Regions from separate parts of the Homo sapiens genome. Here region 2 is linked to region 1. The links come from fine-mapping of genetic effects on gene expression. Tissue or cell type: lung. Region 1 holds a variant in brackets; the other region holds the start of a gene. All regions are shown on one strand. Distances are between the middles of the regions.

Evidence for each region. PIP is the estimated chance that this variant, and not a neighbour inherited with it, causes the effect.
Region 2: it holds the start of NAPRT, and the variant in region 1 is fine-mapped to the expression of NAPRT in lung (TOPMed, PIP 0.97).

Annotation. Positions count from the first base shown.
Region 1 is chr8:143,671,090-143,679,335 of GRCh38, forward strand. No RefSeq gene overlaps it. Among named protein-coding and RNA genes, the nearest start is that of ZNF707, 9.3 kb to the right of the region's middle. The variant C/T (reference allele first, on the strand shown) is at 3,974.
Region 2 is chr8:143,575,140-143,583,139 of GRCh38, forward strand. It overlaps NAPRT (nicotinate phosphoribosyltransferase), which reads right to left and starts at 3,191. Exons shown (of 13, transcript NM_145201.6): 1 at 2,954-3,191; 2 at 2,677-2,804; 3 at 2,518-2,600; 4 at 2,130-2,260; 5 at 1,923-2,038; 6 at 1,507-1,703; 7 at 1,293-1,433; 8 at 939-1,023; 9 at 483-563; 10 at 284-386; 11 at 52-206. The coding sequence starts at 3,179. It overlaps EEF1D (eukaryotic translation elongation factor 1 delta), which reads right to left. Exons shown (of 10, transcript NM_001130053.5): 6 at 6,090-6,189; 7 at 5,915-6,015; 8 at 5,367-5,588; 9 at 4,873-5,067; 10 at 4,589-4,691. The coding sequence ends at 4,653. RefSeq lists enhancers at 2,599-3,506, 3,507-4,415.

The DNA.
Region 1 (8,246 bases):
TGTTAAGAGGTTTTGTTTTGCGTTGTTTTGAATTTTTGTGGGCACATAGTAGGCGTACGTATTTATGGGGTACATGTTTTTGTTTCTTTTTTTTTTTTTTTTGAGACAGAGTCTCACTCTGTCACCCAGGCCGGAGTGCAGTGGCGTGATTTCAGTCCACTGCAAGCTCCGCCTCTCAGGTTCAAGTGATTCTCCTGCCTCAGCCCCCGAGTAGCTGGGACTACAGACGAGCACCGCCACACTTGGCTAATTTTTGCATTTTTAGTACAGACGGGGTTTCATCATGTTGGCCAGGCTGGTCTCGAACTCCGGGCCTCAAGTGATCCACCTGCCTCAGCCTCCCATGGGGTATACGTTTTGATACAGGCGTGCAAAGTGTAATAGTCACATCATGGATAGTGGGGTATCCATCCCCTCAAGCATTTATCCTTTGCGTTACAAACAATCCGATTATACTCTGTTACTTTAAAATGTACAATTAAATTATTATTGAATATAGTCACCCTGTTGTGCTATCAAATACTAGGTCTTATTCTTTCTAATTTTTTTGTACCCATTAGTTAAGGGTTTTTTTTTTTTTGAGACAGAGTTTCACTCTTGTCACTCAGGCTGGAGTGCAGTGGTGAGATCTCGGCTCACTGCAACCTCTGCCTCCTGGGTTGAAGCGATTCTCCTGCCTCAGCCTCCTGAGTAGCTGTGATTACAGGTGCACGCCACCATGCCCGACGAATTTTTGTATTTTTAGTAGAGACAGGATTTCACCATGTTGGCCAGGGTGGTCTTGAACTCCTGACCTCAGGTGATCCACCCACCTCGGCCTCCTGAACTGCTGGGATTATGAGACTTACGGTTTACCAAAGGGGTGCGATGGGCCTTCTGTGTGGTGTCCGCATCCTCTCCTAGCTGGTTTCGGGAGAGTGCCGGCCCTCTGGGGCCTCTCTCCCTGGCTCGCCCTTTAGAAGGGGTTCACATAGTTAGAACCTTAGCAGTAAAGGTAACCTGTGCCTTGCGCAGGGCGGGGGACCTGGTGGGGACCCCAGAGGCAATGGTGTCAGCCCCGGTTATGGACTGGCGTCACTTGCGGCAGCCAGGTCCCACATGCACCCACCCTAATTTAATTAGACCAGGCAGCTAGGCAGGAACACGTTTATTTATTTTTAATTAAGCTTTTTGTGATAATTTTAGATTTGCATGCAGCTGTAAGGTGTTTTACAGAGAGATGCTGGGCACCCTTTACCTCCCTCAGTGGTAGCACCTGGAACCCTGCAGTGCACACAGCTGGGGTATTGATGTTCACAGAGTCAGGATATGGTCCTCACCCTTCCACAGCCACACCCACTCCCTCCCTCCAACCCTCCTTCAGGGCTGGCAACCATTCATCTGTTCTGTCCATTTCTGTAATTCTTTTTTCTTTTCTTGTCCTTTCCTTTTCTTTTCTTTTTTTCTCCTTCCTTCCTCCCTTCCTTCCTTCCTTCCCTCCCCTCTCTCTTTCTCTCTTTCTTTCTTTTTCTTTTCTTTCTTTTTTTTTGACAGTCTTGTTCTGTTGCCCAGGCTGGAGTGCAGTGGCGCGATCTTAGCTCACTGCAACCTCCACCTTTCAGGTTCAAGAGATTTTCCCAAGCCTCCCAAGTAGCTGGGATTACAGGCATGCACCATGCCTGGCTAATTTTTGTATTCTTAGTAGAGACGAGGTTTCACCATGTTGGCCAGGCTGGTCTGGAACTCCTGACCTCAGGTGATCCGCCTACCTCGCTTAGCCTCCCAAAGTGCTGGGATTACAGGCATGAGCCACAGTGCCTGGCCCATTTCTGTAATTCCATCTTTTCAAGAATGTCCTGTGAATGGAATCATATACAGTATATATGGAATTGTTCTATTGAGGCCCAGTGTCACCAGTACCCATGGATATACAATCTCCTGGTGGGGCCAGGGTGCACCATGGCTCATGCCTGTAATCCCAGCACTTGGGGAGGCCAAGGTTGGAGGATTGCTTGAGGTCAGGAATTTCAGATCAGCCTGGGCACCATATTGAGACCTGTCTCTACAAAAAATTTTGAAAAGTTAGCCAGGTGTGGTGATGCACTCCTGCAGGCCCAGCTACGTGGTGGGCTCAGGCGGGAGGATGGCTTCAGCCCACGAGGTAGAGGTTACAGTGGCTGTTGCTGGGAAAGTGTGATACATGCAAGAGAATGAAGTTGGACCCTCGTCAGTACCACATACAAAAATTAACTAGAAATGGATCATGCTGGGCACCGTGGCTTGCACCGCTTGTACCTGTAATCCCAGCACTTTGGGAGGCTGAGGAGAGTGGATCACCTGAGGTCGGGAGTTCGAGACCAGCCTGGCCAACATGGTGAAACCCTGTCTCTACTAAAAATACAAAAAAAAATTAGCCAGGTGTGGTGGTGCACACCTGAAATCCCAGCTACTTGGGAGACCGAGGTGGGAGAATCCCTTAAACCCGGGAGGCAGAGGTTGCAGTGAGCCGAGATCACGCCACTGCACTCCAGCCTGGGCAACAGAGCAAGACTGTCTCAAAAAAATAAGTAAATAAAGTAAAATAAAAAGTAAAAATGGATCAAAGATCTGGATGCAAGACCTGAAACAGTAAACTCTTGTTAGAAACTGGGAGCAGAAGCTTTTGACACACACTGGGTTTGGCAATGATTCCTTGGACACCAAAGGTACAGGCAACAACAACAAACAGCCAAATGGCTTCGTGAAAATTAAAGCCTTTTGTTCATCAAAGGACACTCCTAAAAGAGTGAAAAGCTGCCCCTTCCCCACAGAACGGGAGAATATCTGCAAATCACGTGTCCGATGAGGGACTCATATCCAAAATATCGAAGGAACTCCTTGTGGAGGCCAAAGCCGCTCCAGCCTGGATGGTGACTATTGTGTGGGCTTTCGACTAACCCGTCCAGGGAAGGCCTCCGACGTTTCCAGGTGATCTGTTGTTCCTTGTGTAAGGGCAGGCACTTGCTATAAACCCTGCCGCAGGGTCAGACGGCCCTGATGCCGCCCATTGTCCTGCACTTCCCTCCCAACCCTCCCCGTGGTACACAAGCCCTGGGCGGGGGCAATGGTGGGATCCAGTATCTCCTCTTGCCGCTGCCAAGACAGACATGGCTTCTTTTTCTAAGTCCCTGTTAAGTGTTTCTTTCTAAGAAACTGGGTTTGTTAGCCTTTTTCTTTGACCTCTCAGCTTCCTCGGACTTTGGAGACAGGTTTACATAGACCTACTTACCATGGAACACTCCAGAAAACGACTCCCCAAAAACAACCTGATTCAAAAATAGGCAAAGGACTAATTAGACCTCTCTCCCAAGAATGGCCCAATAGGCTGGGCGTGGTAGCTCACACCTCTAATCCTAGCACTTTGGGAGGCCAAGGTGGGCGGATCACCTGAGGTTGGGAGTTCGAGACCAGCCTGACCAACATGGATAAACCCTTGTCTCTACTAAAAATACGAAATTAGCGGGGCGTGGTGGTGGGTGCCTGTAATCCCAGCTACTCGGGAGGCTGAGGCAGGAGAATTGCTTGAACCCAGGAGGTGGAAGTTGTAGTGAGCTGAGATCACGCCACTGTACTCCAGCCTGGGCGACAAAGTGAGACTCCGTCTCAAAAAAAAAAAAAAAAAAGTAAAGAAAAGAATGGCCCAATAAGCACATGAGAGGATGTTCACACCACTCATTCTTAGAGAACTGCAAATCAAAGCCACAATGAGATACCACCTCACACCCATTAGGATGGCAAACAATTAAAATAACAAAACAAACACAAAACAGAAACAACTTAAAACAGAAAAATAACAGGTATTGGCAAGGCTGTGGAGAAGCTAGAACCCTGTGTGCTGCTGTTTGGAATGTAAAATAGTACATAGTACACCTCCTAAGGAGAGCAGCATGGCGGGTCCTCGGCGTGTGGTGCCTGGAGTGACGTCGGGTCCTCGGCGTGTGGTGCCTGGAGTGAC[C/T]GGCGGGTCCTCGGCGTGTGGTGCCTGGAGTGACCTTGTGACCTGGCCATTCCACTTCTGGGCATATTCCCAGAGCTGTGAAAGCAGGCACTCACGCAGACGTTTGCACCCCTACGTTCACAGCAGCACCATTCCCAGCGGCTCAAGAGTCCGTCAATGGACAAATGGATACACCGAATGTGGTATGGACACACAGCAGAATATTAGCCTTAAAGAAGAAGTCAATTCTGACACACGCTTCAAGAGGGATGAACCTTGAGGACATTGTGCTGAGTGAGATAATCAGTCACAAGAGGACCAATACTGTGTGTGATTCCATTTCTACGAGGTATCCACAGTAGCCAGATTCATAGAAACAAAGTAGAACGGTGGTTTCTAGGGCTGCAGAAGAGGGGAATGGAGAATACTAGAGGATCATAGAAGTTAAAGACTTAAAACAAACTTTAACAATTAGGACAGGATACCAAGGTGCAAATGCCTGGTTAAAATGGATCAAATATTCCATCTACACATTAAACAAAAGCAACTGTTACGCTTGTGCACATGGCAGGCCAGAGGCCCAGATTGTCCCCCTCCACTAAGGTGGTCGCCAGTCGACCAGGCGTGGCTGCATAGTAGCTCTTTTCCAGGATTCTACAGCCTGCAGTAACAAGACGTGCCAAGCTCTCTCTGCTATATCCCGAAATCCAGCACCCTGTGGGTCAGCCCGCAAGGGCCATCCAGCTTCTGTCTCCCAACACTAAGTTCACTTCGTGTCTCTCACGACAGGGAGGAAACAGCATTCCTTGGAGACCTGAAGGGATGCGATGAGCTTAAGAATTTTCGAGAGCTTATCAATCAGTCAGCCCTTGTTCATCCCTGTGCGGATGTGTGGTGGTATTGTGGTGGACCTTTACTGGGCACTCTGCTGAATAACTGGAATGGCACTTGTGCTTTAGTCCGTTTGGCTATCCCTTTCACCCTGGCATTTCATCAACCAGAGGGAGAAAAAATAAGACGTCATAAAGCGAGAGAAGCCCCTTATGGGTCTTTCAACTCTCACGTCTATTTGGATGCAGTTGGGGCCCCTCAAGGAACACCAGATCAATTAAAGCTTGAAATCAAATAGCTATAGGATTTACGTCAATATTTTAGTAGGTGACAGTTAATAAAAGTGTAGATTAGATAAACTACATCTATTACAACCAACAGCAACAAGCTTTTCATGAGTTAAAAGAAAAACTCCTGTTGGCCCCAGCCCTGAGTCTACCTGACGTGACAAAACCTTTTACACTCTATGTGTCAGAAAGAGAAAAAATGGCATTTGGAGTTTTAACCTAGACTGTGGGGCCCTGGCTAAGGGCAGTGGCCTATCTCTCTAAACAACTATAGGGGGTTTCCAAAGCCTGGCCCCCGTGTCTAAGGGCCCCGGCAGCAACGGCCCTGTTAGCACAAGAAGCAGATAAACTAACTCTTGGACAAAACCTGAATATAAAGGCCCCCCATGCTGTGGTAACTTTGATGAATCCCAAAGGACATCATTGGCTAACAAATGCTAGATTAACCAAGTACCAAAGCTTGCTGTGTGAAAATCCCCACATAACCACTGCAGTTTGCAACACCCTAAACCCCAGCACCTTGCTCCCGGTATCGGGGAGCCCAGTTGAACATAACTGTGTAGAGGTGTTGGACTCAGTTTATTCTAGCAGGCGCAACCTCCGAGACCATCCTTGAACATCAGTAGACTGTGAGCAGTACGTGGATAGCAGCAGCTTCGCCAACCCCTGCAAAGTGACTCTGAGGAAGACGACAAGCCCTGCTCCAGTCACGCCCAGAAGCTGACTGGTCCATGCACGGCCGAAGCATGAGGAAACTCATCGCAGGACTCGTTTTCCTTAAAATTTGGACTTGTACAGTAAGGACTTCAACTCACCCTCCTCAGACTGAGGACTGTTCCTAGTGTATACATCAAGTCACTGAGGGAGGACAAAATGTTGCTACAGTCCCATTATTTTACGGTTATTATAAGTGTACTGGAACTCTAAAAAGAACTTGTTTGTATAATGTTATTCTATACAAGGTATGTGCCCAGGAAATGACCAACCTGATGTGTGTTATGACCCATCTGAGCCTCCCATGACCACAGTTTTTCAAATAAGATTAAGAATTAAAGACTGGTGGGGGCTCATAAACAATATGAGTAAAGTGTTAGCCAAAAAAAACAAACAAAAAGAGGTGCCCAAACAAGTCACCTTGAAGTGTGATGCCTGTGCTGTCATTAATACTAATAAGTTAGGAATAGGATGTGGTTCTCTTCATTAGGAAAGAGGCTGTATGGCAGAAAATAAGTACATTTATCATGAGTTAGGACTGTGTGGAAATGAATGTAGTTACTGGTCTTGTGTCATTTAGGCTACTTGGATAAAAAATGAAAAAAATTCTGTCCACCTTCAGAAAAGGAAAAGTGGCCCTTCCTATACCAGTGGTCAGTGTAACCCCTTAGAACTAGTAATAACCAACCCCCTTAATCCTCGCTGGAAAAAAAGGAAATGTGTAACCCTAGAATTTTTTTTTTTTTTTGAGATGGAGTCTCGGTCTGTCACCCAGGCTGGAGTGCAGTGGAGCGATCTCGGCTCACTGCGAGCTCTGCCTCCCGGGTTCACGCCATTCTCCTGCCTCAGCCTCCTGAGTAGCTGGGACTACAGGTGCCCGCCACCACACCCGGCTAATTTTTTGTATTTTTAGTAGAGATGGGGTTTCACCGTGTTAGCCAGGATGGTCTCGATCTCCTGACCTCGTGATCCGCCCGCCTCTGCCTCCCAAAGTGCTGGGATTACAGGCGTGAGCTACCGTGCCCGGCCATAACCCTAGAAATTCATGGGGCTGGACTGGATCTTCAAGTAAATATTGTGGTTTGAGGAGAAGTTTATAAACGCTCTCCTGAGCCAGTATTTCAAACCTTCTATGATGAACTGAATGTGCCAGCACCAGAAATTCCAGGAAAAATAAGAAATTTGTTTGCAATTAGCTGACCATGTAGCCCAGTCTCTCAATGTCACTTCATGCTATGTGTGTGGAGGAACTATAATAAAAGACCAATGGCCACGGGAAGCCCAAGAATTAGTACCTACAGACCCAGTTCCTGACGAATTCCTGGCTCAGAAAAATCACCCTGATAACTTCCGGGTCCTAAAAGCCTCAATCACTAGACAATACTGTATAGCAAGAGTAAGGGGCCGGGCGCGGTGGCTCACGCCTGTAATCCCAGCACTTTGGGAGGCCGAGGCGGGCGGATCACAAGGTCAGGAGATGGAGACCATCCTGGCTAACACGGTGAAACCCCGTCTCTACTAAAAATATAAAAAATTAGCCAGGCGTGGTGGCGGGCGCCTGTAGTCCCAGCTGCTCGGGAGGCTGAGGCAGGAGAATGGCGTGAACCCGGGAGGCAGAGCTTGTAGTGAGCTGAGATCACGCCACTGCACTCCAGCCTGGGTGACAGAGCAAGACTCCGTCTCAAAAAAAAAAAAAAAAAAAAAAGAGTAAGGAAGGACTTCACCCTTCCTGTAGGACGACTCAGCTGCCTTAGGCAAAAACTGTATAATGGTACTACAAAAACAGCCACCTAGTGGAGTTCAAACCATACTAAGAAAAATCCATTTAGTAAATTCCCAAAGTTGCAAACCGTGTGGACCCATCCGGAGTCCCACCGAGACTGGACAGCCCCCACTGGATTATACTGAATGTGTGGGCATAGGCCTTACACCAAATTACCCGACCAGTGGGCAGGCAGTTGTGTGATTGGCACTATTAAACCATCTTTCTTCCTACTGCCTATAAAGACAGGTGAACTCCTGGGCTTCCCTATGTTTCCCGCGAAAAGAGAAGCATAGCTATAAAAAAATAAGAAAGATAATAAATGGCCCCCTGAGAGAATGATGGAATATTATAGGCCTGCTACTTGGGCACAAGATGGCTTGTGGGGATACCGGACCCCCATCTACATGCTCAACCAAATCATACGGTTACAAGCTGTCTTAGAAATAATCACTAATAGGACCGGCAGAGCCTTGACTATTCTGGCCCGGCAAGAAACTCAGATGAGAAATGCTATCTATCAAAATAAATTGACTCTCGACTACTTGCTAGCAGCTGAAGGAGAAGTCTGTGGGAAATTGAACCTTACCAATTGCTGCCTGCACATACATGATCGGGGCAAGTAGTTGAAGATACAGTTAAAGACATGACGAAACTGGCACATGTGCCTGTACAAGCGTGGCACGGATTTGATCCTGAG
Region 2 (8,000 bases), 96 kb before region 1:
TCAGGGCTCTACCGGGGCTGGGGGTCAGGATGAGGGCGGTGGGGCAGCCACCTGTCCCTGCTGGAGGCAGAGCCGCAGTAGTGGCTCCACCTGGGCTGGCCTCACGGTGCAGGGCTCCTGGGCCCCTGGAGGCCACACCCTCAGCTCCTGCCCAGCCTGTGGCACTGGCTCTTCTGCTAACTGCAGCATGTCCATGAGTGGAGACCCTGTGTGGACGGGGCAAGAATAAGCGGGGGCCCTGGTGCTTTGAAGGTGGACAGCAGGGGGGATGGGAGGGCCTCACCGTCAGAGCCCAGGAGCCGGAAAGCAGCCTTGCTCCCAGGCAACGTCTGCTTCTCGGGGTCCTCGGTCAGCTTCATTCGTGGCTGGCCCCCCACGGCCACCAGCTGCAGGAAGAGGGCGTTGAGCTGGCTGGTCCTTATCCCCCACCCAGCACCATCCCTCAGACCTGCCCCCACCTGGGCCCCCGACACTGTCCCTACCTTATAGACGCCACCCAGGGAAGGCTGTTGGGGGCAGGTGACCACACTGGTGCCAATGCCAATGACATTCACCTCACTGCCCTGGGTGGGGAAGGGGGTGGCCGTGAGCCCAGCTGCCCTGGGTGGGGAAGGGGGTGGCACTGCCCTGGGTGGGGAAGGAGGTGGCACTGCCCTGGGTGGGGAAGGGGGTGGCAGTGCCCTGGGTGGGGAAGGAGGTGCCAGTGCCCTAGGTGGGGAAGGAGGTGGCACTGCCCTGGGTGAAGGGGGTGGCAGTGCCCTGGGTGGGGAAGGGGGTGGCAGTGCCCTGGGTGGGGGAAGGAGGTGGCAGTGCCCTGGGTGGGGAAGGGGGTGGCAGTGCCCTGGGCGGGGAAGGAGGTGGCAATGAGCCCAGCCAGAACCTGCAGGGGCCCCCAGAGCCCCCCAGCCACCCTCCGCCTACCCACTCATCCACCCCACCTCCTGGGCCAGTCGGGCCAGCGCCTCCTCGTCAATGTTGTTGCTGACTACGATGAGGACTGACTCCAGCCAGGGCACCTGGAACCTGCCGCGTGGGTGGAGAAAGGGTGGGGGCCACCCCTCGGGTCTTCCTGATTCACCCTGGTGTCCCCCTGCTCCCCGCCCCGCCTCAGTCAAGGACACCTGTGCTCACCTTCTGCTTGGGAGCTCCTAGGGAGCCCCACCACTTACTTCCCTGCCACGGCCTGCAGTATCACCGCTGAAACTTCAGCAGAGTACCTCACTGTCCTTCCCTGCCCATTCCCAAACCCCGGGGATCTCCCACCAGGCACACCTCCTCCCCGGGAAACTCACTGGGCTGCAGCAGCTCGGAAGACCTTGCGGATCTCCTGAGCCTGCTGTAGCAGGTCACCACTGTCCAGCCTCACGCCCACTGCCCGGTAGCCCAGCTCTCCCAGGGCCAGGGCGACTGCTAGGAAGTTGGGGAGACCACTCCTGCAGAAATAGATAAGGGAGTCAGAGGCTGCTGAGGTTCTGCTGAGCCCACCCCTAAAGTGCCCGGGCTCACCTCCACACGCTGTAGGTGTCCAGGAGGCCCTGGAAGGCCCGGGGAAAAGCCAAGGCATAGGCCACAAAGGCTGCCCGCTCGCCTGGATGCGGCTCCTGCACCCCCAGCCCCAGGTGGGCACACACCTGCTCCAGCCACACCTGGGCTTTGGCCGCCAGGTCCACCCCAGGGCCCTCACCAGCTGCTGGCGCCAACATCTGTGGAACAGAGTCGGTGAAGAATGGGGGCCAGGAATGCAGGATGAGGCCTGGGAGCAGCCAGGGACACCCTAGTTTGAGAGCAAAGGTAATGCAGCCCGTGCCAGCTTCCTGGGACAGCACTGGGGTGACCTGCCTGGGTGGCACACCTCTCGCCAGGGCAAGGGCTGGCTTGGGGCCTGTCGCCTGGAGACAGCAGGGTTTAGAGGAGGGACTGACCGGGTCAGGGGGCACCTCGCTGCCTGAAAAGGAAGTGACGAAGGAGTGGGCCAGGGTCCCGGCCACCGGCACACCTCGCAGCTGGCCCGCTAGCACGTTGCTGCTGCTGTCGAAGCCTGGGGAGGAAGGCGGTGGGATTGGGGGACCTCGGGCCAAGATGGGGCTCCTCCTTCCCGGCCCTTGCCTTGCCCCGCACCAGACACTCACCGCCCAGGTAGCTGTAGGTGGAGGCTGTCAGGCCCCCATCGGGGCCCTGAGCCCGCCTCAGGCCCATCTCTAGCAGCCGCTTCTCTGGCCCTGCGATCAAGCGAAGCCGCGCTGCGTTGGTGGCCACCAGGCTGTGGGGAGCCAAGAGTCAGGGGGTCCCAGGGTGAGGATCACTAGGCCACCCAAGACGGCGGTTACCTGGGGCCTGGAACTTCCAACCTGGGAGCTCCACCCTCACCCAGCCCCTCCTTACACCCTGAAGAGTGGGGGCGGGAGGCCAGTCCTGGGACCCCTGGGCAGCCAGCCCCGCCGCCACAGTCCAGCACGGAGCCCCGGCGCTGGGGGCCCATCCCATGCCCACGCTCCCTGCCAGTGGCCCGCAGCCCACCTGGCGTAGCTGACCAGGCAGAGCAGCGGTGTCTCCAGCAGCTGCACCACCAGGAGCGGCCCGGACACCTGCAGGAGCGGCACCTGCGGGGAGAGAAGTCAGCTCCGCGCTCGGCCCAGCACCCCGTGGCCGCCGCGCCGCCCGCTTACCCCTACTCACTCCGGGGAAGGCGAGGGAGCCCTCGGGCAGGGCTCGCACCGTCACCTCGGAGCAGTCGAGGGCCCGAAGGTGCTCGAAGAACGCAGGATCCGTGTCTGGGGGCAGCACCGAGGCCAGGAACTGCACGTCTGGAAACGAGGTAACTGCGCTGAGACCAGCGCGGGGACAGACCGGTCGTGGGACATGGGGGGTTCCACGGGGGGACAAGGACTTCCACCGGCCATAGGTGGGGGTTTCTGCCGGGCGTGGGGGGCTCGTCGCGCGGACGGGGGACTACCGGCGTCCCGCAGGCGGAAGGCGCGCAGGAAGCGCACACAGTCGCGCAAGCCGGCGGCCAAGGCGAAGGCGCCGCCGAACGGGCAGCGGCGGAAGAAGAGCTCGAACTCGGCGGCGTCCCGCGCCCGGCCCGCGCGCCAATAGCCCAACGCCATGGTGGCCTGGTAGAGGTCAGTGAGCAGCGGCCGCGCCGCCGCGCGCGCCTCGGGGTCCTGCTCCGCCGCCATCCTGCTCCCGACGTCCGGACTCCGCCCCGCCCCGACCCCGTGACGCGCCCCGGCCTATGGCGCACTCCCTGTGGGGCTTATCGTGCCGTTTGGGAGCGGCACGGGACTCGATGGAGGACGGGTGGGGCTAATAGTATCGGCGCGCCGAGAGGGGCTGAAACAGCTGGACCCGGGATGGGGTGGGGGATGTCACCCAACTCCTCTCGGACCCCCCAACCCCACTCCAGGCCCAACGGCCTCTTTGGAGCGCAGCCCGGTCTTGGTCACCAGAGGTGCCCCCAGTCGCTCGTGTCTCTGCCCTTTGGCCGGGCAATGAGGTGCAGCTCAGGACTTGCCAGGCGGCGGAAAGGGTGGAGGACAGACCAGCCAGACTCCACCCCCACCGACCCAGAAGACAACCGCTGGCCAGCAGCCAGCTCCTGCCCTGGGCCTGGGGAGGGAGGCCAGAGGCTGCCTTAGTTAGAGCTTGAGCAGCCAGGCTAGGACGAGGCAGCCCAGATGGACGCAAATGTCGCTTGGAAAGAGCTTGGCACCCAGGAAAGGGCGGCGTGGGGCAGGGGGGCGCATGCCCACTGTCGGCTGGCACCAAAAGACCTTTTGTGGCTATGAAGGCCCAGTGTCCCTCAGTGGTGGCTTTTATGGGGTCCTGCAGTCCAAGCCCCACAGGAAACTTTCTAAAGGTTTGAGGGCAAAGTCAGGGGCCACTACCCAGGGAGAATCCATTCCCCTGTGGCTTGGGGCCCCGAGGACAGAGTCTGACCAGAAGTAATCAAGTAATTACACCCCATCCTCTTTCACCCCAATGCAAACACGGGTGGTCCAGGGGAGGGAGTGTGGCCACCCATGCTGACCACATACGGCTGTCAGGATGCTGAGGCACAGCTCCACAGAGCCCAGGCAGCCACGTTCTGGCCACCCCAGAACATCATGGGAGGGGCACAGTCCCTGGAGCAAGGGGCAGGGATTCCAGGAATGAATGAGGTGAGGGGAGGGCCGGGACAGCACATGACAAAGGGCATGGCAGCAGGGCCGGGTGCTACTGGGACTTCTTTCCTGGACAATTCCAGGCTTGCACGCTTGCTCCCATGGGGACAATGCCAACAGGAGGCAGAGTGGTGGGGTGGTGGCCTCTCCAGATAGTGACCTAACAGTTTCTGTTTCTGGCTTTTTAAACCCCCTGAACTGGACTTGCTTTTGCAATGGAAAGAAGAGGGAGGGCCAGAGCTTTGGGAGGGAGTGGCCAGGAGATGGAGGGACAGGCGGAGGTCTGCTGGGGGCAAGGTGACATGGCCACAGAGGGTGGCAGCAGCCAGGATGACTGTGTGGGAACAGCAGGGCAGAGATGGGGCTGAGACAGGGAGGGAGACAGGCCAGGTACGAGCAGGAAATGACCAGGACGGAGCCAGAGGGCCGGTCTCAGTCTTTAATCGTGGCAGGGCCTCACGCACGCGCGCACGTACACACACTCAGGCTTCAGATCTTGTTGAAAGCTGCGATATCGACACTCTGCACCTGAGGAGAGGCGGAGGGTGACGGTCAGGGCTGTTCCCCTACAGCCCACTCGGAGCCAGGAGCCTCCTCTGAGGTGGGGTTCACTCTGGGACTCGCTCCCCACTGCCGTGGGGTGGAGTGCAGGGTATGGGCCAGGGTCCCCAGTCTCCTCTCCCCTCCTCTCCCCGGCCGGCTCACTCACGTGCTCCTCAAACTTGGTGATCTCCTCCTCCAGCAAGTCTGTCCCCACCTTGTCGTCCTCCACCACACACTGAATCTGTAGCTTCCGGATACCGTAGCCCACGGGCACCAGCTTGGAAGCCCCCCAGACCAGCCCGTCCAGCTGGATAGAGCGCACACAGGCCTCCAGCTGGGCCATGTCCGTCTCATCATCCCACTGTGGGGAAAGGGGAGGAAAAGCTGGGGTCAGCCACCCTCAGAACACCCAGGAAGTACCTGCATGCACCCTACCCTCAACCACTGTGTGTCCACAATTCTGTTTCCTTAAAGGGCCCACAGAAAACAATCCAAATTCACACCTTCCTGCCTCCAAGTTTGTGTTTATCCCAAGACTTCTAAACTCGGCTTTAAAGTCTCCCCAGAACCCAGAGGGCAGGGGGAGGGTCACAGGCTGAGCCGGCTAGGCGGGCACCAGGGCAGTGCCTGGCCCCCTGAAGCCCCACCCCGCCCACTCACAGGCTTGACATCCAGCAGGATGGAGGACTTGGCCACCAGTGCAGGCTTCTTGGCCTTCTTCTCCGCGTACTGCCGTAGCCGCTCCTCCCGCAGCTGTGCCGCCTCCTTGTCCTCCTCCTCATTGTCACTGCCAAACAGGTCAATGTCATCATCCTCGTCATCCTCTGCTGGTGTGGCTGGCTTCTTGGCTGGGGGCTCCACTTGGCGCATGGGAGATACGTGCTGCCACAGGGGAAGGGACAGGAGGCACGGCTGAGACGCCCCAACCAGGGCCCAGAGCTGCCTGGCCACCTCCTGGCCCTCCTCCCTCCTTTGACTGGAGGAAGGGCAGCCCCTGTGTACCGCAGCTGTGTACATGCAGGGCCCCAGGAAAGACAAAAACTGCCTCCACCTGCCCAGGGCTAACTGTAAACCTTCCTGGGGACCTGAGGACTCCAGTATCCTGGCTGCCAGCTCATCACTGCTGCTGGGGCCAGCCCACAGGGCGACGTGGAAGCCAGCAGGGCCACGTGGTCCCCTGCAGTGTCAGGCGTGGGGAGAGCATTCACCTGGGTCTGTGGGGCCGTGGCCCGGTGGCCAGGCGAGCTCTTCTCCAGCACGTTCAGCCGGGCCTCCAGCTTGGAGATGGCCTGCTGCAGCTCCTGTACCACTGGGGGGGCAAGGGGAGCACGGTTAGATGGCAGGGGCCAGGGACAGCCCCAACCCACTGGCCCGGGGCCTCACCGCCACGCAGACTCTGGTTCTCCACTTCCAGACTGGCAATCCGGACGACGAGCTCACCGTGGTCTCCGCTGGTGCCGCTGGAGGCCCCGGGGCCTGAGCTCTGCAAGGCAGGAGGAGGGGAGGGCTCAGTGCCCAGCCTGCTCCTAGGGTCCCCCTGCCATGCTCAGGACTGCAGGAACTCACGGAAGGAAAACTACAGCTCGGGAGAGCAGGAGGTGCCCCCCGCTGATGCCCAGCTCAAACTTATGACCTCAGAGGTGGCGGCCACCACAGACCACAGTGAAATTCTCAGCCAGGCAAAGTCCAGGACAGGAGGCTCTTGGTGCCCCAGAGACGGAGGCTGTGGGGAGCTGGGCCATGGCTGCTGCTGCCCGGCGGAATCCTGCTGAGCAGCCAGGCTCAGAGGCTGGGTGGGAGGTGCTGAAGGACTCACAGTCCTAGGGACAACCTGGGACACGCCTCAGGGGACCAGGCAGCACTGGAAATGGGAGGCGGGAGCAGCTGAGGGCCCAGTGGGGGAAGAAGGAAGGAGCCCACCTGTGTGGACAGCAGCCACCCAAAGCTTTGTCTCCCTGGGCCTCACGCCTGCCATCTCACTCAGCAAGCCAGTCTCTAGGTGATCCAGGGCCCCAAGCCCACCTCATACTCTGCCATAGCTGAGACTGATACCTCGGGGCCCAGACAGGATCCCAGCCTCCTGGCCCTTAACACTAGCCAGTCCTTAAGCATCTACCTGCACGCATGGGCCATTTAGCCTGCCCACCCTCCAACAGGATGGCTCGAAGGACAGGGTGCACCTGGCTGCATGGAGCTCTCAGCAAACCCCATCTCGGCAGCTCCCCGGGGCTCCCTCTCTGTGGGGAGGGGCCTGGAGTAGCCGGGCAGGCAAAGCCGCTCCTTGCAGCAGGTGCGGACATACTCAGGCCTTTGCCCAACGTGCAAACCCATCCCTGGGGCCCTCCTGCCACCGTCCTTGGGACCATGCTGTGGGGAATGCTTGTTTATGTATCTGGAGGGTGTGGGAGCTAAGCCCCGCAGATCATGGGCAAGGCCGAGCCAAACTGGCCCAGGAGGCCCACCTGGCAGCAAGGCCAGGAGGAAATGGACAGGGAAAGGCCAGGCTGGCAGAGGCGCGTGAATGGTGGTGGGGGTACGGGAGGCACCGGCAGAAACTGACAAACTCGGGGGCAGAAGCCGGAGCACGGGAGGGCCAGGCTTTGGGGCGCCAGGGGGCATGGAGAATCACAGCAGACCTCCCGCGGGAGTGGGGCTGGGTCCTGAGGAGGCCGGAGTCTGTGAGTGGCACCTGAGGCCTCATGCACCCCACACAGCAGGCCCAAGGACAGGGAAAAGGTCCCCTCTGGAAGAGGCACTAAGTCAGCACTGGCCCCGGGCTGCATGATGAGCAGCGGGGGCCGTCTCACCACTGCCTGGCTCTGCGGGCCACTAGGCCAGAGCCCACAGCACTCAGGACACAGGGAGAGTCCCCTCCTTTGATGCTGACTCAGGGGGGACTAGGGATGCCAGGCATCAGAATCCCTGAGCACAGCTTCAACGGGCAGGCTCAGGTCACCCAGTGCAGTCACAGCGGGCCTCAGAGAGCCCCTCAGGGACTTGGGGGATGCCAAAGGCAAACACTTCAGAGCCAGACCCATGCCTGTAACCCTGTGCCAGCACCACGCTACCAGAAACCCTGCAGTTCTGAAACCCCAGTGTCTGCTGAGCACTCCCACCCCAAATCCAAGATGAGACTGGGCCCCTGCCATGGGCTGAATAATGTCCTTCCAAATCCACATGCTGGAGTCTTATCCCCCGGTATCTTAGGATGTGACCTTATTTGGAGACAGGGCCTTTGCAGAGGTAACTGTCACTGAGGGGCAGGGGGCTAATCCAATCTGACTGGTGTCCAAT